2 separate regions of the Homo sapiens genome follow, and region 1 is linked to region 2. The links come from fine-mapping of genetic effects on plasma protein levels. A gene starts in region 2. The other region holds a variant in brackets. All regions are shown on one strand. Distances are from middle to middle.

The links. PIP is the posterior inclusion probability: the model's chance that the variant is causal. The UK Biobank Pharma Proteomics Project read protein levels with antibody pairs (Olink). The fine-mapping took linkage between variants from a reference panel, not from the people measured, so its PIPs are less certain.
Region 1: its variant is fine-mapped to the plasma level of the PER3 protein (UK Biobank, PIP above 0.99).

Annotation. Positions count from the first base shown.
Region 1 is chr1:7,758,693-7,773,930 of GRCh38, forward strand. CAMTA1 (calmodulin binding transcription activator 1) reads left to right here. Exons shown (of 23, transcript NM_015215.4): 23 at 7,767-11,014. The coding sequence ends at 7,799. It overlaps VAMP3 (vesicle associated membrane protein 3), which reads left to right and starts at 12,604. Exons shown (of 5, transcript NM_004781.4): 1 at 12,604-12,693; 2 at 14,750-14,819. The coding sequence starts at 12,692. RefSeq lists enhancers at 11,808-12,504, 12,248-12,297 and silencers at 12,531-12,773, 12,738-12,967. The variant A/AT (reference allele first, on the strand shown) is at 7,561.
Region 2 is chr1:7,780,826-7,795,034 of GRCh38, forward strand. It overlaps PER3 (period circadian regulator 3), which reads left to right and starts at 3,466. Exons shown (of 22, transcript NM_001377275.1): 1 at 3,466-3,551; 2 at 3,829-4,180; 3 at 4,616-4,761; 4 at 5,896-6,011; 5 at 7,220-7,421; 6 at 13,132-13,183. The coding sequence starts at 4,053. It overlaps VAMP3 (vesicle associated membrane protein 3), which reads left to right. Exons shown (of 5, transcript NM_004781.4): 5 at 1-607. RefSeq lists a silencer at 2,932-3,541.

The sequences.
Region 1 (15,238 bases), 22 kb before region 2:
TGGGAGGCCGAGGCGGGCGGATCACGAGGTCAGGAGATCGAGACCATCCTGGCTAACATGGTGAAACCCCGTCTCTACTGAAAATACAAAAAATTAGCCGGTTGCGGTGGCGGGCGCCTGTAGTCCCAGCTACTCGGGAGGCTGAGGCAGGAGAATGGTGTGAATCCGGGAGGCGGAGCTTGCAGTGAGCCGAGATAGCGCCACTGCAGTCCGGCCTGGGCAAAAGAGCGAGACTCTGTCTCAAAAAAAAAAAAAAAAAAAAAGATAATATACTTATTTTGTTAATTTGTAAAGTATTCCATATTTAAAACATGGTTTATACATTGAAAAATAATATTTTCCCAGCTACTGGAGGCTGAGGTGGGAGGATTGCTTGAGCCCAGAAGGTCGAGGCTACAGTGTGTCATGATAGTGCCACTGTACTCCAGCCTGCACAACAGAGTGAGACCCTGTCCCAGAAAAGAAAAGAAAAGAAAAGAAAAATAATATCTGGAAACTTACAGAATTAAATTTTATGGGACAGTATTTGTTAAACACTAATACTGACCCAAACTCCTACGTCAGTGGAGCAGGGGGAGATCTAAAAAGGCAGAATTAAGACACGACAGACAAATTCCAGCAGCAGAGCAATCAGAAAATACCACTTGTGTCTTGAAATGTTTAGTCTTTGCTTGGGGAAGGCTAAGAAAAAGCACCAAATATTTTTCACTGAGTACAGCTCACTTTTATCCCCCTTTCCTTCAGGCCTACCTCTTAATTTATCCAGTAACTTAAAGTGAAATTAACAAACTCTCGATACTGTCATCAGGGTTTTTGGTTGTTTTGTTTTTTGTTTTTCTGTTTTTTGTCTTGGACACAATAGCTGTGTTTAGGAGAGAACTTTTGTTCTACACAAAGAGATTATTTAAATTAACAAAAGTGATTTCTCAGCAAATGACTGAAGGATTTTTAAGGTTTAAGAAACTTTTAAAGTACATATGCTGAAAAGATACTTTCATTTGGATTTTGAGTATATCTAACAGGATATTATTCAGTTGCATAGAGAAAAACCAAGATACCTCATATGTTAGCAGGTAGTTCAGTTACATAACAGATTTATCCTCAAGGTATTGAGACTTGCTTGACCTAAAAAAATAAAAACTAAAATGCCTGTTTTTCTAGACAGAAAATGTCTTTCCACTTCTCTAAGACATTTATTTTTCGTGGATAGTAGAAAGTGTTCTCATAGATGAGTGACACCGCTCTTTGAAAAGCAATTTCTAGACAAATTCCTCCTTTCCCGATACGAGACACTATTTCTGTGAGAAGGCTTTATAAACTGTAACAATCACTATGGGTGTTATTAAAAGCAGTGGGAATGCTAGTATTTAATTAACCTATTTCTTATAAACTGCTGGCCTAGTCACCTGTGTTCAGTAAAGGCAGGTGCAGTTATTTTACTGGAACAAAACCTTAATTGGAGGAAGAAGAAATAACACTTTTTAGTCACATATTTTCAAACAACATATTTTCTTTTTATTTGAGAACCGGGTTTCCAAACACTTTGCCAGAAGCTGGTAAGTAGGGGTCTCAACAGAGCAGCTCTGCTGTGTGCTTCTGAGAACAGCCCCGGGTCATAGCTGCACTGGGTCATTACCAAGTTCTGAAAATTACGCTTACACTTTTGGCTGTTTTATGTACACTTTTATCCAAGGGACAGTTCTCTAACAATGCGGGGAAGTGTACTGAGAAGTAAACAGTGCTCTAGGGTCAACAAATGTGTTCTCACACTTCCGTAGCTCAATTTGGCATGAGGCATAGTTTCTAAGTGGCCCGATGTGTTCATGAGAAGTAAGACGTGAATGTGGGATGTGTCATCATGGATGTATTTTAAATCTTCAAAGTAATTTTGTCTCACTTGCCTCTTTTAGGAAATGAATATTTTTGGAACACAGTGGTGTGTGTTAAATTGCAGACAACATGCTCTGTGTCATTCTTATTGGGCCTCTCTGTCTTTTTTGTTTTGCAATCCAAATGAGATTTCTGGAAAATGGCAAGATCTCTCTTTTCCTAAATTCCCCACAAGCTATTGCAGCTCTCAAAGCAACAGGTAATAATCAGAAAGCCGCATCCGCTGCCCTGTCTATTTTTGACGTCCAGCATTGCGAGAATATTCCCGCTGAACTCCACTGACTCATGAGACATTTCTCTGGCTGAGCATCACTGAGTAGATGTAATGAAGCAGCTTTGCCTTACGCTTTACCCATGGAGCCATTGTTTGCTACAAGTTTCTGAAGCAGGCCTACTTCATTGATTCATAAATGATCATTGGACGTCTGATGGAAGTAAACCCTGTGGGCTTTTGCTGGCTTTCAGTGCTGTTGCTTACGACATCACTTCAGTACATTACGATGCAACTTTTTGGGAAGGGGGAATTGAGACTACAATGGTATCCCAGAGTGGTGATTATTCTCAGCCTAGAATGCTTGGGGAAATACTGGGATTGTCTTTAATGTTAATAGCTGAATGGTAACAGGTCAGTCTTGCTATTCTAATTACTGTGAGTCTGAGCCAATAAGAGTTCTACTTTGCAAGTTACTGATAGGAGTCAGAAATGTGGCCGCACAGCTCTCCTGAGGGCAGCACTGGCGCTGTGGGAACTGTAGCTTCTGTCCTGCATTGCCTCTATGAGCTCAGGGAAGACTGCTTTGCCTGTCTTCTGTGTAAGTGAATTTAGAAGTAAGTGCAGTTATAATTTTTTTTTTTTAGATAGCCTGGACATTTTTAGATTCAGTTCTTTCTTAGCCCTGAATGAGTCGAACAGTTGTAATTCCTTAAGAGAACTGAGCACTCAGTAACCCTTAGCTAAGTGTGTGTAACATAACAAAAGTTTATCATGCACCTGTGTTCCAAGTTCTATAGATATGGTGACCACAGGTCCTGGATTTTCAAGTCTAATTCCAATTTCAAAAATTCTTGTCTATATTTACCAAGTTTGTATACTGAAAAATTTGCTTACAACATAGGTAATGTTAATGAAACCAGTTCAGTCCATTGATTTTGGTTTCAGTCTACAAAATTGAATTTTTTTCCTTCCAATGAATTTTTCAGTTGTTTTTATATAATATGAACACAGCATTTGTAAGACAGATTAGTAACAGACAGATAGAAAACGATCTAATTCACTTTTTTTTTTTAAGACTAACAAGCAGCTCATGCCTGTAATCCCAGCACTTTTGGGGGCTGAGGCAGGAGAATTGCTTGAGGCCAGGAGTTCAAGACCAGCTTGGGCAATATATTTAGATCCCCTGTCTAGACAAAAAAATTTTAAAATTAGCCAGGTATGGTGATGTGTACCTGTAGTCTAGCTACTCAGGAGGCTAAGGCTAAGGATTGCTTGAGCCCAGAAATTCCAGGCCACAGTGAGCTATGACTGTTCCACTGCACTCCAGTCTGGTCAACCCTCTCTCTAAATAAGTGGAGAAAATAAAAGCTAACAAGCAGGAATAATTATTATTACAAAAGCAGCACATACTAATTGTAGTGAATTCTGGAAATACAAATAACCAAGGAGAATCACCCAGAGATAATAATGGTTAAACTTCTATTTTGTATCCTTCTCATTGGTAAAGATTTATTTTTAACATCTGCCTGAATAATCATTCATGTCCTTAACTAATAACAAGGTGATCATAAATTTAGCCATTTGAAACACTCTGATTTGAAACATCTATTTCTTAAAATTTGTTTTAAAATTCTAGTATATGTTATTCTAAATCACTTTGGTGATATAATTGTTTTCTGTTTCTTTGGAGGCAATATAACATTCAAACATTATTTTATCCAGTTGACATTTGATTTAAAACAAAACAAAAATTAAGCCCCACTGTCTCATCCTAATAATCTACTCTCAAGTAACATAAAACTTCATTTATGATTTCACTAGGGCAGATAGTAAGCCTCTCAATTTCATGTTAACTTTCAGAGGTAAGTTAACATCTATATGGTCCATAAATTGCAAATTGGAGAATAAAGCTAAAAATCTCCCTTGATTCTTACACACATTCTTTTCACACATTTTAGGATTCTAAATAATTGTGTTGTAAAATCAATAAGTACATTTTATGTGAGGGTCTTCCCCCACCAAGAATGTTTTTTATTAATAAAATCAATATAGTGTCTTATAAAAGATGACACCTTAGAATTGAGAAAATGTAATTGTTGTTAATTTCATCTCATACCATGGAAATTTTCCAAATGCATGTTTCTTATAAAGTCTTTTAGAAAAAACAATAAAATATGATTTTTAAAATACTTCTGTGTTATCCTGGGAGATATTTTTAGAGACAGTGAAATGTTGAAACTATAGGTTTGGAAGTCAGACAAACCTGGACTCAATTCCCTGTTCTGCCATTTATTAACTGTGTGAATTGGGGCAGATTGCTTAATTCCTATAAATCTCAGATTCTGCATTTACAAATTGGAGCTAATGGCAGTGTTGTGAGGACTACATAAAGTAACAGATATTAAGTAACCTGTATAGCTATTGGAATTTAATACTTTTTCTCTCTCATTTTCCCCTTTTTTTTCTAATTCCTCCTTGAACGACTTTCTGTAAAAAATGTTTGTGCCATTTAAGTCATTTTGATGTCATGTATAATGCTAGCATACTATGATAACTTTATCATGAAGCTAAGAACTAAATTCTCCACTTTAACTCAGGAGTTGTGGAAGCCTGGAAAATATATCTGAAAATTGCATTGTTCTCATTTTTCCTGCGTAGACATTGTACGTGGACATGCACCTCTCCTTAACCTCGTGGTCTGTGAGGCCATCACTAATTTCATAGAGTATTTACTTGACAACTTTAAAACCTTATGAAAACTTAACTTTTTAATTAGTTCTGAAAGAAACTGAAAAAACTGCAAAAACAAATGTGACCATTTTAACTAAAAGAAAAATGTTTAGGGTATACCTCCCCTGACCAGCTGATTATAGATTCTTTGGTATGAAACCACATAAAACATTTCTGGCTTATAATTCACTCTCCTTTTTATTTCATCTCAATGATGAACTTAATATTTCTAAAGCATTCCTGTTCATTCGAGAAAAATTGTGAATGTATAACATCGTCGTGTTTATGCTATCAGATTTTGAGTTCAGAATTCCTCAAATTATAGACATCTCATCAGTGATGGAGTCACTGTCGCATATTTGTGAATGAGGTCTGTGCTAGTGCAGAAAGAAAATGTAGCATTTGAAGTGGCATGCACACGCTGCAGAAATTCAGCAGATAGGTCTGCACAAGTACAGATATTGCATGTCCAGAAGCGAAGTTGGCATCAGTGCATGCCTTGCATTTCCAGCCAAAGGGATGTTAGTATAGATATTGCATGTTTAAAAATTGAACAGACTATAGCATGTTTCAATTTTTAAAAAGCCATTTATTTATCAAGTATGCATGTCCAAAATTAGGGACCTATAGTGATGTACAATTCTATACTGTAATATGACCCAAATTAATCCATGGTATATTTAATTATAAAATTTAAAACTAAATGATATTTGGATCTACTCATGAACATAGCAATGTATTCTAACTGTGCCTGTTAACAAAAAAAGATTCAACAGTTTTAGAGATACACTGTTTGTCACTGTCATTTATAAAAATCACACTAGGACCAAGCTAGGGCTTGGTATATGTAGTAAGTAAATCAGACAAGTAAGCAAGTTTTCAAAGATTATAATTCTTTTTAGTATTACTGATAACATCATAAAGCTTTTCTTCTAAAAGAGAGCATCTTCTCTATGAAGAGATTGTATCAACTTTGCAGAATACTCAGAAATGATTCTGCTTGGAAGTGGTAAATATAAATGTTTTCTTAAATTGCTATTATACCATATGTGCCATTCCAGACTCTCAACCTATACAATATAGCAATAACTGATTACTGGTTTTTTCACACTATTTTCTTTCTGCCTGAGTATTATCAGGTTTTACTTGAGGCTGGGCCTGGTAGGCTCATGCCTGTAATTCAAGCACTTTGGGAGGCTGAGGTGGGCAGATCACTTGAGCTCAGGAGTTCAAGACCAGCCTGGCCAACATGGCGAAACATCATCTCTACTAAAAATACAAAAATTAGCTAGGCGTGGTGGTGCGTGCCTGTAATCCCAGCTACTCGGGAGGCTGAGGCAGGAGAATCACTTGAACCCAGGAGGCAGAAGTTGCAGTGAGCCGAGATCGCACCACTGCACTCCAGCCTGGGCAACAGAGTTAGACTCCGTCTCAAAAAAAAAAAAAAGTTTTACTTTACTGGTATAACTTAAGATAATAGGAGAGCCTCTTAGAGAATCAGAAAAATATATTTGAGATTATAGCCCTCTGTATAGCACCACGACAAATCCACCTTTTCCTGATCATGCTGTTGCAGTAGAGTATGGTGTCCTAAGAAACTGTTGCTCCTATTTGGCTAAATCAGCCTCTCACATCCATTTTTGGGAAACAAATGTTATTATATGGTATGCAGTACCACAAACTGTGACTTACACCACATGCATTGCCTTACATTTGATCATTCTGCTATTAAGGCAGGTTCGTAATTGTCAGTGTAGAGAAATACTCTTACAGCAGACAGCAGCTTCCCCAGCACCCCATCTACATCAGGTGGCCATATCCAAAAAAACTGAGACTGATTTTTATATTAAAAATTACAGATTGGCAGTGATAATTAATAAGTAATTTGCTGATGTGAACTTTCCATGACTCAGTCTATAACAATGTTATTTAAATTTGTTTACTACAGTATGTTTGATGAATAGAACGAAGTACCTTATCAGTATCGCACCCTATGGCTGTCCATCTGGGATCACTGGGAGGAGGAACCTAAATGTCTTTTTAAGTTATAATGTGGAATGGGAGGAAAGTAAGGAATTATAAAAATCAAAGTCTCCACAAAACCTGTGTGAAGGAGTAGAGTTGTACAGATGTATGATTAGGTTCAAGAAAGCTAACAATCTTGAGTCTATGAACAAAGCAGTAGTAGCTTAATCCCTAGATATATTAAAAGCTAAATAGGCCGGGCGCGGTGGCTCACGCCTGTAATCCCAGCACTTTGGGAGGCTGGGTGGGCGGATCACGAGGTCAGGAGATCGAAACCATCCTGGCTAACATGGTGAAACCCTGTCTCTACTAAAAAATACAGAAAATTAGCCGGGTGTGGTGGCGGGCGCCTGTAGTCCCAGCTACTCGGGAGGCTAAGGCAGGAGAATTGCGTGAACCCGGGAGGCGGAGGTTGCAGTGAGCCGAGATGGTGCCACTGCACTCCAGCCTGGGTAACACAGCGAGATTCTGTCTCAAAAAAAAAAAAAAAAAAACTAAATAAATGCATGTACAGTTTCCCTAATTTACATCATACAGAGTGATAGGACATTAATGGTGGTCCACGAGACTAAAAAGAAAGTTATTTGAATAGTTAAATTTTTATTAAGATAAACATGTGATTGTCACACTTGATTTAATACATTAGACTTTGATTTTGCTCTATTCTTAGAGCGCTCGATGTAGAGCAAAGCTTTAGAATG[A/AT]TTTTTTTTTCACCTTAAGTAGGGTCACGTCTTTCCTTTGAATATTTTCCCCAACAATTTCACAGGAGTTTCTTTTGCCGTCAATCCTCAAAACGGTTTTAGTCTTGGCTTTTCAGTTCAGAGGGAGTGGTAATACCCCTTTCCTTTACTTGGTCACAATTCACTATAGAGTTATCGCCTGCTGTTTTGTTTTGTTTCTCTTCCAGAGTGAAAGAATTGAAAAAGGCCAAGGAACTTGAAGACATACAGCAGCATCCCTTAGCAATGTGACATTGCTTTTCAGACTGTTTTCATTTCTGTTTTTAGCAGAGACATGCAACAACAACACACACGCACACACGCACACACACACACGTACACACACATACAAAATCCCTCTGCAGTTTTGGGGAGATCAGCTGCAGGATTTTAACAGGAATGTTTTGGTCATTGCATTTGCACTTTCATGGACAACTTTTAATTTGATCAGCAAGACATCTTGGAACTCAATCTTCTGTTGGATCACGGGAAATCAAGACACCCAGGAGGAATTGAAAGAGGCTTCCTCTTCTCAGGAAGAAGCCATTTCCTTCTCATATAGGGCTGTATTCAAACATCGTGTGGAACTGTACAAATATTTATACCAAAAATATAGATAAGAAAAGGTGGGGCTATACTAGCAACAAAAAAAGAATGCTGTTCCTGCACCTGCCGGTTATTTCCAAGAAGCTGAATCTTTGGGACTGATTCTCAGTGGAGGGCTTAGATCATACAAAAATCTTTATTGGGTCCGTGTGTTCTCATTTCCTTCACTGTTTATTTTTGTTTGTTTGTTTGTTTGTTTTAATCTCTACAGCACATTTAATGCAACTTTTGAAATCTGCAGGTTTTTAATGTCTTGTGGAAATTTGCAGAGGGGCAGGTGTGTGGTAAACGGGTAATGCATGGGAAATAATGAGAAGCAGCTCACAGAGTTTAAACTATTTTCTTGTCCCCACCACCTTCCAAGAACCTGCGAGGGTAGTAATCATCTTGTCCCCTTTTTCATGTTCAGCACTTTAATTTTTTTGCCTTACTTTCATGTGCAATGAGAATTACTTAAGAATTGGTAACGCATGTAGCCTTTTTTAGTAACCTTGGAAGCTGTAGTAATTCTAAGGAATCATGAACCTTGCCTGGACATTTGCCACCTAAACGATCAGTGTGGTGCTGCGTTCTGGCCAGTAAATTCCATGTTTTTGGCTATATCTCATCCAAACTGAGCAGTTTCTGTGTATATATAGAAGGTAGAAATGAAAAGTGAGAAAATATTTGAAAGGGATTATATTAATTGCTAAATATTTTATTCACAAAGGTCAATAACATGGCAAGATAAAATTATTTGTATAGTTTTGTCTGAATGAGCGAGAAAAATGTGGATGTACTGTTTGTATATATTGTATATATTAAAACAGAGATATGTGCATGAAATCAAGAAAAAAGAAATGAACAAAAGCAAAGCATTAGTGGCTATGGTCTGTAAAATGAAACAAAAAAACTTTATTTCACTATAAGAGTACTTTATTTTAAATGTTCTTTAGGAGAACATTTTGCTAAAGCATGACTAAACTGCAAAAAAAAAAAAAGAGCTACTGTATTTAGACTTAGGAAAAAAGGCAGAGTAACATTACTTAAAAAAAAAAGGATATGTTTACATTTAATTTTGGCTACCAGGAGTTTAGTTTATTTTATTTAAAATTTTTTTGCCAATGGTGCCAAGTAATGTGAATGCTAATACTGCTTAAGAAAATTAAGTTACTTTTGCAAAACAGATAATCATAAGATGAATCAGTATGTAGCTTAACACCATCCACTCACTCCAACAAAGAACACTTAGAATGATAAAAAAAAAAAAAAAAAACCTGACAAAAGAAATAGTATGAAAAGTAGAAAAATGTCACGTTTCCATATCTCCTGCTGGAAATCAGAAAATATAATAAAATTGCACAAAAAAAAAAATGAAAAAGATGCAGACTGGTCTTTTAGAGACGGCATGGTATATTACTATTTCCACATAATGAGGAGCCAAAGAAATCTGATGTTTTTAACAATTAAACTGCTAATGTTAAATTGAGAGAATAAAGTTCGTATTTGCTGATGCCAGTTTAAAATTCCCAGGTTACGTCTGAGGATCAGTTGGTGTAAAGCTGAGATGTTTTTTCTTGGTTCTGGCTGCCAACTGTGAGTTAAAACTCAAGGCTTGTTGTGAAGCCTAAAAATATTCACAAATAAGCTTTTAAACTGGTGTCTTTGGAAGGAAGGTAGATACAAAAAGATTGTGGTAAAAACTGGGGTCAGTGCTCTTGGTGCCTTTTCTATAATTGTACTTGTTTTTTAATTACTTCCTTTCACTGCCAACCTCGAATTACTGTACAGTATATGTCTTTCTGCTTGTGATCAGCTTTGACAACAGTGACAGCCCCACAACTAGTAGCCACCTGTACATTTGTAAACTGACCTGACTCCATTTTGTTTTTAAATGTGTGGGTTATGTTGCAGCTGTTGCAGTCCCCCAGATACCTATTATTTTACACAATTTGACCTATAGGAGGACACTGAGTAATTTACAAACACAACTGCATTCATAAATGGGAATAGAACGTGAAAGCCAGCTCTTTCAGAATATCCTCTATTAATACTGAATTTAGATATCTTTATTCCATTTATTATGGTACAAATAACTGATGTTTTAACCAGAGTAATGACCTCAGTGGATTTGCTTTAACCCTCACATTTTTTTTTTAATGTTTCACATGTTACATTATTAGCTGAATACGTTAGAAAATGACAGATGGTAGAGACTTCCATAGAATTAAGAGGGTTCTCATGGAGGGGATAGGAAGTAGGTTTAAAGCCTACCAGTGTAACCTACCAGTACAACTGTGAATCCTAGGCGAGGCAAAAATGCACTTCCACTGAAACGAAGCATTTCTGACCGCTTTTTCTTGGTTATGAATCTTAATTTCGAATATAAGATGATAGGTAAGCGCAGCTTTCTTGGATAATCTGAATTCCCAAGTGCCAGGAGTAGGATTTCATTATAAAATTAATAGCTAATCTTATTCTATCTCCTGAAGATTTAATTGCTATTGTTACCCATTCGAAATCAGCTGTACTGTGTGAACGAAATAAAGACAATAATACGAACCCCTCTCTGGCTGCACGGTCGCTTATGGCAGTTCCACACAGTAGTTGGCGCCCAATGGGGGGTCCCTGAGACTTGCATGTAAAACTAGTCTAGATGTCTTCTTTTTTTGTAAGTTTTATTTTTGTAATTGTGCATGTAAAGCATCATTGAATCAATGGATCTGTTGAAGAACTCAGCTGCTGGAAACCATGCAAAATGTTTTGAATTGCCCTTAAAATATGGAAAATGTTTTCTGAATGCTTTATATTCTTTCTGCTGTAAATTAAAAATGAAGAAAATTTCCCCATACTACGTGTGTGTTTTGCTTTAATATGACCGGGTAGTGAAATCTAAGGTGATGGGCACATGTTTCAAAACATATGTAATAATGTCAAGGATTTCCTTCTGATCCAGATGTAATGTTTTGACATTGAATGTTACATTGTTTCAGCTAGGTCCATGAAAGAAAAAATGTCTTCCAGCCACCATTCAGAGAGCTTTTCCCCTATCTTTCCAGGCACCTCTCAACATGTCAATCATTTGTGTAAGGCAGTGCAATTATTTGAAAGATAAAGACATTAATTTAATTCACCTTTTCAGTTACAATCCTCTAAAGTCTTCTAAAAGGCATTTTCCAGCAGATTACGAACGTCGTCCTTTCTGAGTATTGTGTCATCGCCGCTCCCTTCCCGTTCACTGCAGAGCCTCTCCTTATCTCCCTAGTGCTCCCTCTTCCATCTAATCCATCTGGCCACTACTGCCAGAGAAATTTTGCATCATGGATCTCCCACGTCCGTAAGTCAATGGTTTCCAGGGCCCACTACAATTAAATGACATTTTTCTTGTTTGTTTATCCTCTTTATTCAGTCTTCTTTTCACTTGTACCCAACCTGCACCCTCTAGGTGGTCTGTGCACACTGCGTCCATTTTCACTGCTGTCTTTGTTCATGGTGTTTGCCCAACCCTTACTTGGAAAGTTCTTTTCCACTAGTACCCAGCTCAAATCCCACCGCCTTTGTGACACTCGTTTATTCGATATATACTAACGTTTCCCTTTTCAAAGTATTCTATTTAGAGTTGGAAAAAACAGCATAGTATTTAAGTACTGTATTTTTCACTTCTCATCTAAGAGACCCACCAATGACCTATTAGTGTTTTATTTTTTGGTGTAGGTAACTATGTTGGTAGGAATATTTCAGTAACAAATATATACAAGGTAACTCACTGCGTTCAGATTTGTGCTTCCCTCCCTTCGACCAAAACCTGAGGACCTATTCTGTGCTAGGGCCTGAAAATACAGAAATAAAGGAACTACAGCCTTGATGCCAAGGCTCTCGTAAGCAGATTATAATATGATCTGCAGTGACAAATATTTGTGTCACCGATGAAAACATGAGCGGGAACCTCACCCAACACCATGTGACAAATACCCGAAATGGACTTCCTATTTCAACTACTTTAGAGAAACATGGTGCCCTCAGGATCACTAGGTTACTCTGGAACACTCAGCAGAAGCCAGTCATCTGTCTCTAATACTGTTAGAAATGGTCCCGAGCCCAGAATAACATGAATTGCCCCCACCCTCACTTATCCACGCAGTCCCTCGCCAGTGGCTAATGCACCACGTTTACAGACCACGTCCCCAAGCGCCAGCGCGGACGGCGGTGCGGACAGGGAGCTGTATTGACCTGCGTTCTGCGTTTCAGAGCCCGGACCGCCCTGGGACCCCTGTGGCCCTCAAGTTCCCAAGTGACCTCGTCCGGGGAGGGGACGTCTCGCTCTGACCCCGCCCTGGACGCACCCACCCACGACGCCCCCGCCCACTTCCGGCGCGCCCCCTCTTCGCCCCGCCCACTCCCCCGGCTCCGCCTAGTGACGTCTTTGCCCCGCGCCGCGCCGTCCCACCCATCTCCCTGGCCTCCGGTCCCAACTTCGCTTCTCTGCTGACCCTCTCTCGTCGCCGCTGCCGCCGCCGCAGCTGCCAAAATGTGAGTGACGCTACGCGACGCGGGCGGCTTCGGGCCCCGCAGGCGGCAGCTCGCGCTGGGACCGCCATACTGCCCAGTTGCCGCCGGCCGCCACTCGGACGCAGGCCGGGGCTGCGCGGGGATCCCGAGGCCTGGGGGTGGGCGGTGGCCCTTGGGTCGCGGGCTGCAGACGGGCCGGGCGGGTCCCGCGGCCATCGGGCGGACGCGGAAGGGGCAAGGGCGGGGCGGCGAGACGCTTCCCGGAGGAAGTGAGCTGCCCGCCCGCAGCCCGCTCCTCGCCCCTTCCCTTTCTAGTCCCCGACGTCCCTGAGAGGAATGGGGACGACAGCCCTGGTTCGGGAGCGCCCGCTCTCGGCCCGGTGCTGCGCTGGGCCCCAGAAGTTGCGAAAGAAAGGACCTCGGCCCTGTCCTGAGCCCCTGTGGGCCGAAGAGCTCCTTGCCTAGCTAGGGGCATCTGCACTGGAAAGATCACTTAACCGTGGGCCTTCGCTCTCTTAAGCGAAAGCACGTTGCAAACCCCTGCTTCCAGTGGTAAGACTCAGAGAATGCTAATGGTTAAGAATCACAAGGACTCCCTCTTCCACCTCCATTCTGCTCATTGCTCACCGTCGGAGGAAGCCCCGGGTTTCTTCCAGGAGCTGGGGACCCCCCTCGAATGTTCCTGCTGAGGCTGCTGTGCCAATAGATCACAGTGGTTAAGATCTAGAGCCAAGGTACACAGGACCTGATCTAAAAACAAGCTGTCCTGCAGCCAGCTGTGTTGACTCTCTAAACCTCACTTTACTCATTTGTAAAATAGGAGTAATATTCCCCTCAGAGAGTTATGAGGGTTAAAGGAGGAAAAGCATGGAAAGAGTCTAGCGCCACGGCATGGTCCTTACTTATCTACCAGATACTAAACTCCGTGAGGACGGTGATGAGATCTGTTGTAGCCCTGGTCATTGACACATGACAGATGTAAAGTGACTGTTCAAACAGCCCATCAGACTGTTGTATACCAAGGCACATGCTAGGTGCTATCTAGGATACAGAGAAGAGAGTAAGAAGACCCAGGAACCTGTGATCTATTCGAGGAGGCGGGACTTTATACCTGAAAAACCAAAGTGATACTTTCCAAGTAATGGAGCCAATAATGACTTCAGAGTCAGAGTGGTTAAGAAAGATCTGCATGGGGAGAAATAAAGCCTTTGATGAAGATTTTAAAAGATGAGTACCTTCCTGGGCCGGGCGCGGTGGCTCATGCCTGTAATCCCAGCACTTTGGGAGGCCGAGGTGGACGGATCACTTGAGGTCAGGAGTTCGAGACCAGCTTGACCAACATGGTGAAACCCCGTCTCTACTAAAAAATACAAAATTAGCCGGGCGTGGTGGCACATGCCTGTAATCCCAGCTGCTTGGGAGACTGAGGCAAGAGAATTGCTTGGACCCAGGAAGCGGAGGTTACAGTGAGCCGAGATCGCGCCATTGCACTCCAGCCCGGGCAACAGGAGCGAAACTCCGTCTCTCAAAAGAGGGGGAAAAAGAAAGAGTACCTTCCTAAAAGAGGAGGCATTTCTTCAACACACCTTTCCACTCACACCACCCACTCCCTGCATCCCAGTGTTCCTGACTCTGTTTCTGTAAATTAATCTATTTTTCCATATTGGAAAAAGGGCATTCTGTAACTGTTTGTAACTATGAAAACAGTTCCTTCCACAATGAAAAGATCAGGAAAGTACTGAGTACATTCAAGCAGATGTGTGCCTTAGAACAAGTTTCAAAAAAGGACAGTAGAGCTTACCTATCGTGGGATCAGATACTTCAGGGATACAAAGTAGGTCCTATTAAAGCTTAACATTTGTCCCTTTAGTAGGTGGGACAGTCTTGGAAATTATAGAGAAATTAGAAGAAATGCAATTAAAACTTTCGTTCATTGCTTCAGGAAGAATTTCTTTTTCTGTTTTAGTTCTAATGTAAGAGATTGTTAACAGTGAGAGTCCCGGAGTAACATCTTTATACTTAAGAAAATGTATTTGGAATCGTAATGTACTCATGCTCATGCCTTTACATGTTCCAGGTCTACAGGTCCAACTGCTGCCACTGGCAGTAATCGAAGACTTCAGCAGACACAAAATCAAGTAGATGAGGTATTGCTCTGAAATGTTGGAAATATGAATTTTAAACAAATATGAGTACTCTGGAAATCTGTTTAGAAAAAGTATCATCAAAGTGTGAATGTAAAGCAAATTCTGACTGTATCATAATTGTAACGAAACTTTGCTCCCTGCTGTGCTGGAAGATCTAATCTAAGCAAAAGTCAGACTTTCTAGGTTTCACGCTTGTTTTCCTGTGATAGAAACCTGCTCATAACATTTAGCTCAGGAGAAATAAAAAATCATATGCCTAAAACATGAACATCACTCCCTGAGTGCATTCCCCAAGAAGCACTTTATAAAATCGGATAATACAATGTTAAGGATTAGGTCTTTAGATTGCTCAAGCCAAGACCAGTTCTTCTGATCAGATTTTTTTATCAAAATGCTTTGTCTTCTTACTAATTGTCCAG
Region 2 (14,209 bases):
GCCAACCAGAGACCTTTGCTTTGATATCATCAACTGCAGAGAATGCTGTTGATGGGAATGCTGGAAGCAGAAACTTTGTCATCGGAAAAACTTTTCTTGTATGCATGAGACTCAACATCAGGATCCACAGCTTAAAGATGGGAATTCAGGTATGAAAGAAAACAGGCAAGGAGGCACTGAGGGAGAAAGACACAGACTTTATCGCTCTGTGGCTCATTGTTACTGGAATATTCTAAAACTCTTGTTCACATGCTATTATGACTTATAAAGCAGCAACAGCTGAGGCGCACCAGGACACAGCTTCCATTTCTTTAACGTCTGTTCCCTTAACATCGCTGAAATGATTTACTGTTGAAGAGATGCCTTGCGGTGTGGCCAGCTGTGAGGAGAAAGCAGCTGGCAGTGTTAGGACATTAGTCCACCTTCAGCGCAGGGTCTCTGGCCGGGTCTGACTCAGAAACCTTGGTACTCGCCCCTTGGCCACAGTGCCCAGACCCATGTAACCCACTGGCTCCTGCATTAACCCAGAAATACCTCGCTTCTATCTGTGCACTTAGCTGGGAACTTACCCACTGTAATCACCTAAATAAAGTGTTTATAAACATGATTGTGGCACCTGTGCTCCTTGTAGAGGAATAGCTGCACCTGGTCCGAGTCCTAAAAATGCCATTCCTTGCTGCTCCCCATACCTGTCCCTTAGAAGCCCCGAAACTGTCTCCCCCTTTTCTCACCAGCCCCTCTCTAGGTACTCTACCCTTTTGGTACCCAGCATTTCCGCATACCCCAGTGAACAGAAGAAAACCGCTCCCCTTGTGAAAAGTGCTTTTTAGTATAGGCGATGAGGAGGAAACTGGCTTTTACACAATTACCAAAATTCAGGATGTGGCTTTGGAGTTCCCTAAATAGATGGTCTTTCTAAAGTGATGTGCAGAGCCGACCCCGTCTGTGGTAGACTAGATGGCTGCTGGCATGGACCCTGGGATAGATGAGTGGATAGGTGAGGGACATCCCCAGACACATGGCTCTGTTCCTGTAGATCCTTTTTTCCTCATGAATGTATTTCCATTCTTATCGTAGAACCCCTAGGAAACAATATAATACGGGTGGAAGAGGACTTTTGCTTATGTTTACAATAGGAAAATCCAAGTCCCTTTCCCGAATTACAGGTCCCACGATGATCTGGTCCTTTCTAGTTTTCTGACTTCATGTCACACGACTCTCCAGCTCTCTCTTCTCCAAGCAAGGTACTCCACCAAAGTATAGCTGTTGACATCGGAGAGACTTGTGCCCATGAGACTTTCAACATCAGGGTGTGGCTTGAAGGCCAGAGTTAGCTATGAATGAAAACAGGCAAGGAAGCCCTGAGGGAGAAATGGACCTGATAAAGTTTGTTTCGGTTTCTCATCAGCAAACTGACTTCTTTCCAAAGGTCTTCTGCAGGTACTTTCAGCTCTGCCGGGTCTACTTCCTCACCCGCGGCAGGCGCCTCTCATCTCAGGTTGAAATCCGCCTTCCCCACTCGCGGCAGGCGCCTCTCATCTCAGGTTGAAATCCGCCTTCCCAGAGGCCTGCCCTGCTGATCTGACTAAGCAGGCTCTGGCCTCCCCACTCCACCTTTCTCCCAGTTACTCTTCCTTCCAGTAGTTTGTTTTCTACACATCGCTTTAGGCTTTATGAACTTGTTTATGGGGTTGTTTGTATGGCTTTCTCAATAAAACGTCAACTCCCTGGGTGGCAGGGACTTTGGGCCACTGTTCTATCCGCTGGGATTCCAAGCGTCCCTACCCAGATCTGCACGCAATAAATGCTTGCTGAACGAATGCAGTTTGACAAAACCCAGCTTCGGAGGAGAGCAAGCCAACCTAGAGTATCGCTTGGAAGATATAAGGTGGTTTATTCAATACCTAACATGAACACTCACCTCACTTTTCCCCTCTTCCTTTACATACAATTTCATCCATCCAACAAATACTGAATATTTTTTCTGTACCAGGCAGCGAAGAGGGGCGGCACTCTGCACTGTACCTTTCATTTCTAACATGTTGAGATACTAAACTGAGCTTTCAGACATTTTTTTTAAAGGGCTCTACAACTTCTTTTCTGAAACAGAGTGTCTTTTACGTTTGTCTTCCTCCAGTTGCCAAATGAATCTAATTTTAGGAAGTGCAGGGAAGTGTTTTAAGTTCCACCGTCAAAATTCTGTTTCTGGGCCGGTGCAGTGGCTCACGCCAGTAATCCCAACATTTTGGGAGACCGAGGCCAGCAGATCACTGGGGCTTAGGAGTTTGAGAACAGCCTGGCTAACACAGACCATCTTTACCAAAAACACAAAAATTAGCCAGGTGTGGTGGCTGCACCTGTAGTTCCAGCTACTCGGGAGGCTGAAGCAGGAAACTGGCTTGAGCCCAGAAGACGGAGGTTGCAGTGAGCCAAAATCGCGCCACTGCACTCCATCCAGCCTGGACAACAGAGCAAAACCCTGTCTCAAAAAATAAAAAATCTGTTTCTAAAAATCGGGTGGGCTTTTTACCAGGGCTGCTTTATGGCCCGGTTCCTCCAAGTCCACCCCACTCACCGAAAGAGTTAGCGGAGGATGGGGGCGGTTGGGGTGGGCTCGGTAGGTCACGGGCGGTGAAAACCGTGGGAACCCAGAAAGACGGCCAAAGCACGATGAGGACCGCTGCCGGCAGCCCGCCCCACCCTGGGCTCCTCCCCACACCCGCTCGGGCAGCCGGGAGCCACCTACAAACTCCAGGACTCGACCCCAGAGCGCTGGCCTGAGCCGCCCCTGCTCGCCCCCAGTCCCCGCCTCTCCCTCCCTCTAATGCCCCCGCCCTCGACACCGTCGCCCCCCCGCCCCTGCCTCTCGCTCCCCACGTCTCTCGGCACCCCCGCTCCCATCCGCCCCCCCGTCCCCGCCTCTCGCCCCCATCCGTCCCCATTTCCAGCCTCCCCCTGACCCCGACTCAAGCCCCCCGACTCCGCCTCTCGCCCCTCTCTGCCCCCGCCTCTCACTCCCCTCTCCTTCCCCGCCCGCCTCTCACGTGGAGGTTGGGCCGGACCCGCCCCGCCCCACAGAGCCCGGGTCCCGCCCCCACGTGGCTGGCAGCTTCCTGGCCCTATCATTTCTGCGCTGGCTTCAGCGGCTCCGCCCCGGCGCCGTGCCAGGGGGCCGGACACTCCAGTCGCGCGGCACAGGCCTGAGGCCGCTGAGGGCCACCCCGTCCCCTGCCCGCCCGCCGGCCTGCTGGGATTGGCCGAGCGCCGGCCTCCGCCCGAGCCCGCGCGTTATGTAACGCGCCCCGGGGGCCCCGCCCCCTCGCCCTGGCTTATATAACCCGGGCGCACCGGCTCGCGCCCCGCCCCAGGGCCAATGGAGGCCTGCGGAGTCGGCCCCGACGACCAATCGCACGGCCCGGGGGCGGGACCGGTCACGCGGCGGCAGGGGGCGCGGCGCCGGCTGCTGACCGGCACGCGGCGAGCCTCGAGACTGCGCGAGGGCGGCCCCGGGGGCGAGCGGCTGTGCGCGGGGCCAAGGGCGGGGGCAGCAGGTGAGTGCGCGGCCGGGCGGGAGTTCTGGGCGGCCGGGCGGGAGTTCTGGGCACTCGCGCGCGGCAGAGGAGCCCCGCGAGCCCTGCCCTCGGTACTGGGGGCCCCCGGAGCGTGGCGCTTCCGAGCCACCCGCCTCCCCGGGCCCCATCCCTCGGCGCGCGGGAAAGTTGGGGCAGGGGTGAGGACCGCGCGGTCGGGGCGCCCCAGCCAGCCGGGCCGCTGGCGTCGGACTGTCTGTTCCATTTGTCCCTTGTCACCCTTGTCTCCTCCCCCTAGGCCGGAGTCCTGAAAGTCGAGCGAGCTCCGGGTTTTGAAAATGTTGGAGGGAAAAGCTCCTCGGAGATGAGCGTGACCCCCTGGCTCGTGGTGGCCGCCTGTTCTCACTAACGCCATGGCGGGGACCGGAGTGAGAAACCGGTGTCTGTCACTGACTGCAAAGTGAGCGAGAAGCAGGCTGCGGGCCGTCCCAGCACGACGTGGAGCCCCGCGGAGACCTCGAGATGCCCCGCGGGGAAGCTCCTGGCCCCGGGAGACGGGGGGCTAAGGACGAGGCCCTGGGCGAAGAATCGGGGGAGCGGTGGAGCCCCGAGTTCCATCTGCAGAGGAAATTGGCGGACAGCAGCCACAGGTGACGCGCTGGCTTCAGGCCGAGGGCCCCATGCGTTCGTTGTCCTTCCCTGGAGCAGGGAAAGGGGGACCTAAATCTTTTTATTCTTTTGTTTTCAAGCCCAGGGGAAAGTGTAAAGGGGAGACTCGGGCAATGTAGGATGAAGTGATCCGTGACACTGAAGAAAATTACCGAAGAGTATCAGGAGGGAAAAGTGGTTACAAAAGTTAGCTGAGTTGGGGCTCAAGTGGATTAAGGGAAAGTAAGTGGAGAATGTTTGTCATTCACCAGTTGCTTTGCCTCGAGTTCCCCACCTAGAGGAAGAGGGGTCACCACCCTGTGGACTGATGCCGGTAGAGCACTTAGAAACTTACCTGGCTTGCAGTTTGTGTTCCCTAAGCCGCAAGATGCTGTTGTCTTCAGAGGATGAAGTTGTAATTTTTTTTTATCTTCCAGTGAACAGCAAGATCGAAACAGAGTTTCTGAAGAACTTATCATGGTTGTCCAAGAAATGAAAAAATACTTCCCCTCGGAGAGACGCAATAAACCAAGCACTCTAGATGCCCTCAACTATGCTCTCCGCTGTGTCCACAGCGTTCAAGGTAAACAAGCCGGAGAGAAATTTCATCCTACGAATGCACCAGGACTCATACAAGCAGCCAGAGGAGTGGTCAGTGGGGTCTCAGTCAGACAAATAATTTGAGCTTTTTCTGGTGCTTTGTGGAAGATGAGCAAATCTACACCGATTCCATTCGTGTCTTAATTGTTCACATGTGAAAGACCAGGAAAACTTTATCTGTATAATAGTGTATAATACCTATGCAATGTTTTGCTCATGTGTTGCAAGAGAGTAGAGTTTAGCATAAGCACATTTTGAAGGCTGACCTTTTAAAGAAATATTGTCTTCTATGGAAGTTATGGGAAAAAAATGCATTCCACGAAATAGTTACCTTTACATGCCGTACACATACTTTCAAAATGCAGTAATGAGGCTGGGCGCGGTGCCTCACGCCTGTAATCCCAGCACTTTGGGAGGCCGAGGCGGGCAGATCACGAGGTCAGGAGATCGAGACCATCCTGGCTAATACGGTGAAACCCCGTCTCTACTAAAAATACAAAAAATTAGCCGGGTGTGGTGGCGGGCGCCTGTAGTCCAGCTATTCGGGAGGCTGAGACAGGAGAACGGCGTGAACCCGGGAGGCGGAGCTTGCAGTGAGCCGAGATCACGCCACTGCACTCCCGCCTGGGTGACAGAGCGAGACTCTGTCTCTAAAAAATAATAATGATAAAAATGCAGTAATGATATATCAGGAATTTACCAAACTAAAAATGAACCATTGTAAACACTTTTTCTCTCTGACATTTCCAGGGATTTCATTAAAGCCATATTCTCTTTAGCACAAACCTCAGTGCTTCATATATGATATGTTCCTGAATGACAGAGTACTGTTTCTGCTCCCCCCGCAAAAAAATTGTGTATGCATCTGAAATTTTTAGTTAGTACCTTAAATGTATCTTGCTTCCTGTGATCCAGAACATGCAGAATTCATAAAATCAAATCTTAAGTTTGCACAACTATCAGTATTTTAGGTAAAAGCAGAAAATGATCTGTTTTTGAGAAAAATGCACTGAGGTGTTCTCATCCGAAAAAAATAATCCAGCTTGATAGTGATGAAATGGTTTCCTAAAGATACTGTTGTCACTGGACTACCTGTTTATCTCCCTGTGTTTCTTAGCAAACAGTGAGTTTTTCCAGATTCTCAGTCAGAATGGAGCACCTCAGGCAGATGTGAGCATGTACAGTCTTGAGGAGCTGGCCACTATCGCTTCAGAACACACTTCCAAAAACACAGTAAGAATTCATGCATTTTGCCATATCAACCTGGGTGACTTTTCCTAAGGGCCTGCTCTAGATGTAGGCTTTTAAGAAGGATAACAACGTTTCAGCAACCACAATTTGAGAGAAGCAAAGGAGGAACTGCTAAAGAGGCATGGTGTAGCTTCTCCGCCCTTGCCAGAGAAAACATCTAAAAGCAGAAGCAGCCCGTTCTGTGTGCTGTGCAGCTCAGTGACTTTGGTTATGAGGTGCTTCTAGCTCCTTAGCATTCCCAAGCTCTCTTGAATTAAGAGAAAACAAAAATTACACTGCAGAGTAATTTCCTGCACCTTATTCTAATCTCCGAATTGTTAATTTCTATTTATATCATTCTTAGTTCCAATACCTACTACTTCAAGTTGTAACAACTGGATGTTATAGAACAGGTGAGTTGAGATGCTGTCATTTTTCCTAAAATTTTGGAAGAGACCTTTAGTATATCTTTTTTAATCTCTCTTCTTGTTTGACAGAGTAATCTTCATGTTTGGTTGATACGGTGGAGATTACTTATTTTAAGTAACATAATTGTTACTTAAAGATTTTGTAATAGTGGAACGTGCGCAATCCCTAGTATTATAACAGTGCTTATTTTATGGACTGGTGTGTACATAGTACTGTAGGAGGTGCTATGGAGATTTTTAAAAATAGCTTAAGAAAATATTTGTCTTTTAAGATATTTAAAATAAAGCTAGAGAGGAAAGTATGCCAATGCTAGCAAACACAAACTGCTGATTATAAATAAGTTTCATTTATGTGTAATGGAAAAAATTAGAGCAGTGATGCTTATGTAATGAGGTTTGTCAAGGACAGCTTCTTGAAGAAGGTGAATCTTCAGTGTGTCTTAAAGCATAGAATCTGCGTTGATGACGAGAACACCGTCCACCCAGGTGTATGGCACAGTTTGCAGAGAAGTTATGTGCCATACGTATTTTAGTCTGCATAGAATAAGCTAGTATATTTTTTGGCATAGAAATTGAACCTTCAGTAGGTGAAGTGCAGGTCTTAGGAGAAGATTTAAGAAGCATGTTGGAGAAAATTATTTGAGGAGTTTTGTTGCATTTGTAGGTTGTGCCTGTGTATTTTAAGATACTGGTCATGTTAGAGATCCAGAAGAAATTTACCTTTCAGGGAATATTGCTAGTGAGTATCTCAATATTTGCATTTATTTTAAATGTTTTTCATAGGATACCTTTGTGGCAGTATTTTCATTTCTGTCTGGAAGGTTAGTGCACATTTCTGAACAGGCTGCTTTGATCCTGAATCGTAAGAAAGATGTCCTGGCGTCTTCTCACTTTGTTGACCTGCTTGCACCTCAAGACATGAGGGTATTCTACGCGCACACTGCCAGAGCTCAGCTTCCTTTCTGGAACAACTGGACCCAAAGAGGTAACAGGACCAATGTTCAGATGTCTATCTTTCCTCATCAAGATCAGTTTCATTCTTACAGGAATAGTACAGAAATTAACATATTATTTAGAACATGCACACTATCTGGTTTTTCTTATTCCTGTTATAGAAAGTCACGTGATGAAAACAGCATTTTAAAAGCTTCTGATAACATACTCAATACGTTTGTTTCCATTTTGTCACATCTGTTTCACAGATGATATGTCATAAATATTATTTCATTACCAGCGTATTGTATAGTGGTTTAGTTGCTATGAAGGCTCTGTTTCCTTTAAGTTAAAATTAAATGTTTTTCCTCCTTCATGATTTCCTTGTATGAGAAATTTTACTTTGGAGATAAAATTTGGATCATTAGGCTGGGCAAGGTGGCTCACGCCTGTAATCCCAGCACTTTGGGAGGTTGAGGCAGGTGGATCACCTGAGGTCAGGAGTTCCAGACCAGCCTGGCCAACATGGTAAAACCCCATCTGTACTAAAAGTACAAAAATTAGTCAGGCATGGTAGTGCATGCCTGTAATCCCAGCTACTCAGGAGGTTGAGGCACGAGAAGCACTTGAACCCGGGAGACAGAGGTTGCAGTGAGCCAAGATCACACCATTGCACTCCAGCCTGGGCGACAAGCGTGAAACTGTTTCTGGGGAAAAAAAAAAAAAAAAATTCAGATCATTAGCTCTCTTACAGTTTTTCTTGCCCCTGAAACTTATGAGTCTTATTACTTTGTTTTCCTTCTGGAATGCTTTTCTTTCATAATTCAAAGATGCCTATTGCAGTTTTCTTTGTGACATTCAGTCCTGTGTGATCTTAATTTATTTCTTTTTAGTCATCCTTCATTATTTTATATTCTTTGTGAAGTGTCTCTTAAAGAGCTTTAAAATATATATATATATATATCAGCGTTCTCTTTGATTCCAAGCCCTTCTCTCTAATTAAAAAAAAAATTCATTGTAGTAAAAAACACATACAGTTTACTATCTGATATAGTTTGGCTGTGTCCCCACCCAAATCTCATGTTGAATTGTAACTCCCACAATTCCCATGTGTCGTGGGAGGAACCCAGTGGGAGATAATTGCATCATGAGGGCGTCTTTCCCATGCTGTTCTCGTGATAGTGGATAAGTCTCATGAGATCTGATTGCTTTAAAAATGGGAGTTTCTCTGCACAAGCTCTCTCTCTTTGCCTGCTGCCGTCCATGTAAGATGTAACTTGCCCCTCCTTGCCTTCTGCCGTGATTGTGAGGCTTCCTCAGCCACGTGGAACTGTAAGTCCGTTAAACCTCTTTCTTTTGTAAATTGCCCAATCTTGGGTCTGTCTTTATCAGCAGCATGCAAACGGACCTAATACACCATCTTAATCATTTTTAGGCATTCACTCCATTGCTGTGAAGGATGTTTACATTGTTGTGAAACAGATCTCCATAACTTTTTCATCTTTATATCTGAAATTCTATCTACTATTTCTAATTTTTTACCCAGTAGTTAATTTAATGAAGGGTAGCTTTGCGTGTTTCTTCTTCCAATTATAGATTGCCCCATCTTTTAAAAATATTTTTACATAAGCTCTAGAAAACATGCATGTCATCCCTGCTTGCTTCTAGCTCATCTCTTTTCCCATCTTTCAAAAATACTGATTTTATTTCTCATCCCCTTTCCTAAATACACATTTTCAACCTTTGTCTGTATTTGTTTCTCTGCTTTTGTTAGCTGTTCATTCCGTAAACATTTATTTAATAATCACGTGGGTCAAGAACTAGTCCGGATACAGATACAGCTGTGAACAGGACATACACAATATTGTCTGCCAGGTCTTTCCCATTTTTTCCCCAGGTATTTTTCCTTCAGCACTGCCTGTGGCTTTTCAGCCTTTTCATTTTTGCTGATTACTGATTACTGCGATATTTCCCTTCTGTATTAGTCCATTCTTACGCTGCTATAAAGAACTATCTGAGACTGGGTAATTAATAAAGGAAAGAAGTTTAATTGACTCACAGTTCCACATGACTGGGGAGGCCTCAGGAAACTTACAATCATGGCAGAAGGGGAAGCAAACATGTCTTTCTACACATGATGGCAGGAAGGAGAAGAATGGGAGCCGAGTGAAGGAGGAAGCCCTTTATAAAGCCATCAGATCTCTTGAGAACTTACTATCATGAGAACAGCATGGGGGAAACTGCCCCCATGATTCAATTACCTCCCTCCGGGTTCCTCCCACCACACATGGGGATTATGGGAACTATAATTCAAGATGAGATTTGGGTGGGGATACAGCCAAACCATATCATTCTGCTCTTAAGCCCTCCCAAATCTCACGTCCTCACATTTCAAAATGCAATCATGCTTTTCCAACAGTCCCCCAAAGTCTTAGCTCATTCCAGCATTAGACCAAAAGTCCAAGTCCAAAGTCTCATATGTGACAAAGCAAGTCCCTTTCACCTATGAGCCTGTAAAATCCAAAGCAAGTTAGTTATCTCCTAGGTACAATAGACGTACAAGCATTGGGTAAATACACCCATTTCAAATGGGAGAAATTGGCCAAAACAAAGGGGCTACAGGCCCCTTGCAAGTCTGAAATCCACTGAAGCAATAATTAAATATTAAAGCTCCAAAATAATCTCCTTTGACTCCATGTCTCACATCCAGGTCATGCTGGTGCAAGAGGTGGGCTCCTACAGCCTTGGGCAGCTCTGCCCTTGTGGCTTTGCAGGGTACAGCCTCCCTTATGGCTGGTTTCATGGGCTGGCATTGAGTGTCTGTGGCTTTTCTGGGCTCACAGTGCAAGCTTTTGGTGGATCTACCATTCTTAGGTCTGGAGGATGGTGGCCCTCTTCTCACAGCTCCACTAGGCAGTGCCCCAGTGAAGACTGTGTGGGCTCCGAACCCAAATTTCCCTTACACATCTCTCTTAGCAGAGGTTCTCTATGAGGGCTCCGCCCCTGTAGCAAACTTCTGCCTGGACATCCAGGCATTTCCGTACATCCTCTGAAATCTAGGCAGAGGTTTCCAAACCTCAGTTCTTGTCTTCTGCACACCTGCAGGACCAACACCATATGGAAGCTGCCAAGGAATAGGGCTTGCACCCTCTGAAGCTATGGCCTGAGCTGTACCTTGGTCCCTTTTAGCCATGGCTGGAGGTGAAGCAGCTGGAATGGAGGGCATCATGTCCCAAGGCTGCACAGAGCAGTGGGGGCCTGGACAGGCCCAGAAAACCATTTTTTCTCTCGTAGGCCTCAGCCTGTGATGGGAGGGGTTGCTGTGAAGTCTCTGACATGCCCTGAAGACATTTTCCCCATTGTCTTGGTGATTAACATTTGGCTTCTTGTTACTTCTGCAAATTTCTGTAGCAGGCTTGAATTTCTCCCCAGAAAATGGGTTTTTCTTTTCCATTGCATCTTCAGGCTACAAATTTTCCAAGTTGTTATGCTCTGCTTCCTCTTTAATGCTTTGCTGTTTAGAAATTTCTTCCGTCAGATACCTAAATCATCTCTCTCAAGTTCAAAGTTCCACAGATCTCTAGGCCAGGAGCAAAAGTTGCCAGTCTCTTTGCATAGCAGAAGTGTCCTTTACTCCAGTCCCAACAAGTTCCTCATCTCTCTCTGAGACCACCTCAGCCTGCACTTCATTGTCCATATCACTATCAGCATTTTGGTCAAAGCCATTCAACAAGTCTCTAGGAAGTTCCAGACTTTCCCACATTTTCTTGTCTTCTTCTAAGCCCTCCAAACTGTTCCAGTGTCTGCCTGTTACCCAGTTCCAAAGTCACTTCCACATTTTTGGGTATCTATGGCAGCACCCCACTCTTTGCAGTACAAGTTTACTGTATTAGTCCATTCTCATGCTGCTAATAAAGACATACCCAAGACTGGGTAATTTCTAAAGGAAAGAGTTTTAATTGACTCAGTTCAGCATGGCTGGGGAGGCCTCAGGAAACTTAACAATCATGGCAGACGGGGACATGTCCTTCACGTGGCAACAGCAAGGAGAAGCGCCAAGCAAAAGGGGGAAAAGCCTCTTATAAAACCATGAGCTCTCATGAGAACTCACTATCACGAGAACGGGATGACGGCAACCACCCCCATGATTCAGTTACCTCCCACCAGGTCCCTCCCTTGACATGTGGGGATTATGGGAACTACAATTCAAGATGAGATTTGGGTGGGGACACAGCCAAACCATATCACCTTTTATGTAAAATCTTAATATGCCCTGAAATAATTCTTTTGGATCTCAAAATTCACTTATGCCATAAGGCACGATATAATTCTAGTTTACTCTTTATATTGTACTTTTGCCTTATGAATCTCAAGGATTGATACTGAGAGCAGTTGGTTAATGCCACCCCCTTTATAGGCTATGCCTGCGTTACCCCCTTCGATTCCTTACTTTGAGCACATAGAACATCAAGAGGACTTAGGAAGCAATCCACTCAGCTGTTGTCAACCTCTGGTCCTGTATTAGAATATGTTTCTATTTAACATGTCTTGTACAAACCTCTTAGAAGGATCTGACCATTACTTCTTCAGAGTACGCTTTTAGAAACAAGCATCACATATTTACAGCCTAGGAATGGAAATGCATTGTGGGTGCACGTCTGCTGTCTTAGATCACGTAGTCTAGCTTTCAGTGGTCCAGGACTTCTAGTGAGTGCAGTTGGAGTTCATGTGTCTGGTGTGATGAATAAATGGTATAAGCAAACTGACCTCACAGTAGAGGCCGTTTTCTGTAGAAGATTATACCAATCTTCAGTGCTTTATTAATGCTTTCTGACTCTTCTGTGATCGTCTCTTAGAAGTATCAAGACCTGGGCTGCTTATTCAATATTTTGGTTGTTTTGGATTTTCACTGTTTATGCTACCTTCAGTGTATATTTTTTGAACATCTCACAGTTTTCCATGGTTCCTATAACTGAAGACTTCTTGTTTCAGTGAACAAATGCCCAAAAGATATTCAGGAAGCTCTAATCAGAGGAAATACATATAGTCAACAAACACTGGGCAGAAATTTCAGTCCCCTCATCTCCTAAGGCAAATTTAGACATTTCTGAATTATCACCTCATAAATCAATAAAATGGGTGCAGAAATCAATGGAATTGCTAGCAAATCATTGGCATGAGGGTTGTGAGAAAACATTAATAAAACTCTGAAGATTGGTACAGTTTTCTGGAGGTTTATCCATACACAATAAAGTCATAAAACGATTCTATCATTTAACCTAGGAACACAACTTTTTGAAATTTATCCAAAGAAAGAGCTTAAAGAAAAAAAGAAAATTATATATCGTATAGCTAAGAAGCTGAAAATAGTCTGAATTCCCAACTTTTTAGAAAGGTCCAGACTATTACAATGGGATGGAATATTACCACCAGAATAATTGTGTCCAAGGATCATTACATTGACCTTTGAGATGATGAACATGGGCAGTTTGGGAACTATGAAAAGTAGTAAGGGGAAGAGATAAAGCCGATTCTCACTGTTATACCTGAGGTTCACGGTTCCAGTACCAAAACCAATACTAGTATTTCCCAATTCTAGTATTGTGACTGGATCTCAAAATGAAGGAAGGGGGTTCTATTTTAATCAAGGAGACCTCTCTCTCTTTTAAAAAATAGTTTGTTGTTTGATAATGGTGCAACATTGTTTCACTGAGAAAGACCTGGATAAGAGGGAGTGACTGACCAGGCATCTTTCTTTCTAGCAGCTGCACGGTATGAATGTGCTCCGGTGAAACCTTTTTTCTGCAGGATCCGGTAAGTATAGTGGCTCGTGGAAGCCAGCAACAGTGGATTATGTTCTGAGTTTATTTTGCAGTTGGTTTGATTCTTGTGTATTCAGCTCACTTCTGTTGCGAGATACAAAAAATAAGACTTGGTTATTGCCACAAGGAGTTCGTATTTTGATTGAGAAGAGACATACTCATGAGAAAACTAGATAATAATGCAATAGGAGGCTGGGCACAGTGGCTCACACCTGTAATCCTAGCACTTTGAGAGGCAGAGGCGGAGGCGGGCGGATCACAAGGTCAAGGGGTCGAGAACATCCTGGCCAACATGGTGAAACGGCGTTTCTACTAAAAATACAAAAATTAATTAGACGTGGTAGTGCACGCCTGTAGTCCCAGCTACTCGGGAGGCTGAGGCAGGAGAATAGCTTGAACCTGGGAGGTGGAGGTTGCAGTGAGCTGAGATGGCGCCATTGCACTCCAGCCTGGCAACAGAGCGAGACTCTGTCTCAAAAAAAATAAAAATAAATAATAATGCGATAGGAAAAAAGTCTAGAAAAATAATTCTTAACTCTAGGAGTGTATAAGAATCACTAGATGTGAAGTACACTTTAAAATGACCATTGTTTTGGGCTCTTTTTTGTTTAGCTTTTTGTTTTTCAGTCACATTTAAAATTAATTTTTGAAATTTTTAATAGCTTTAAAGAAAGCAAGAGATTTATATTTGTGAGAAGGATTTAAAAGATCTAGAGACAGTGAACCAGAAGAAAACAGATGAAAATTTTAACAGTAGTTGATTGCTGGTAGGAATTACTACTGAATTTTTTATCTTCTAAATTTGCTGCAATATATTATTAGTGTTCCTTTTATGTTATATACATAATATATAATTATATATTCTGTTATGTTATATATTATGTATATAAGATGATATAATAATATGTTCTTTTGTAATAAGAACAAATATTTTGAAATGACATTGTGATTGCCAGTTTTAGTATTGAAGTTACTAAATGCTCAAGATGTTTAGAGAGAAGAAAAACCCTCATGATGA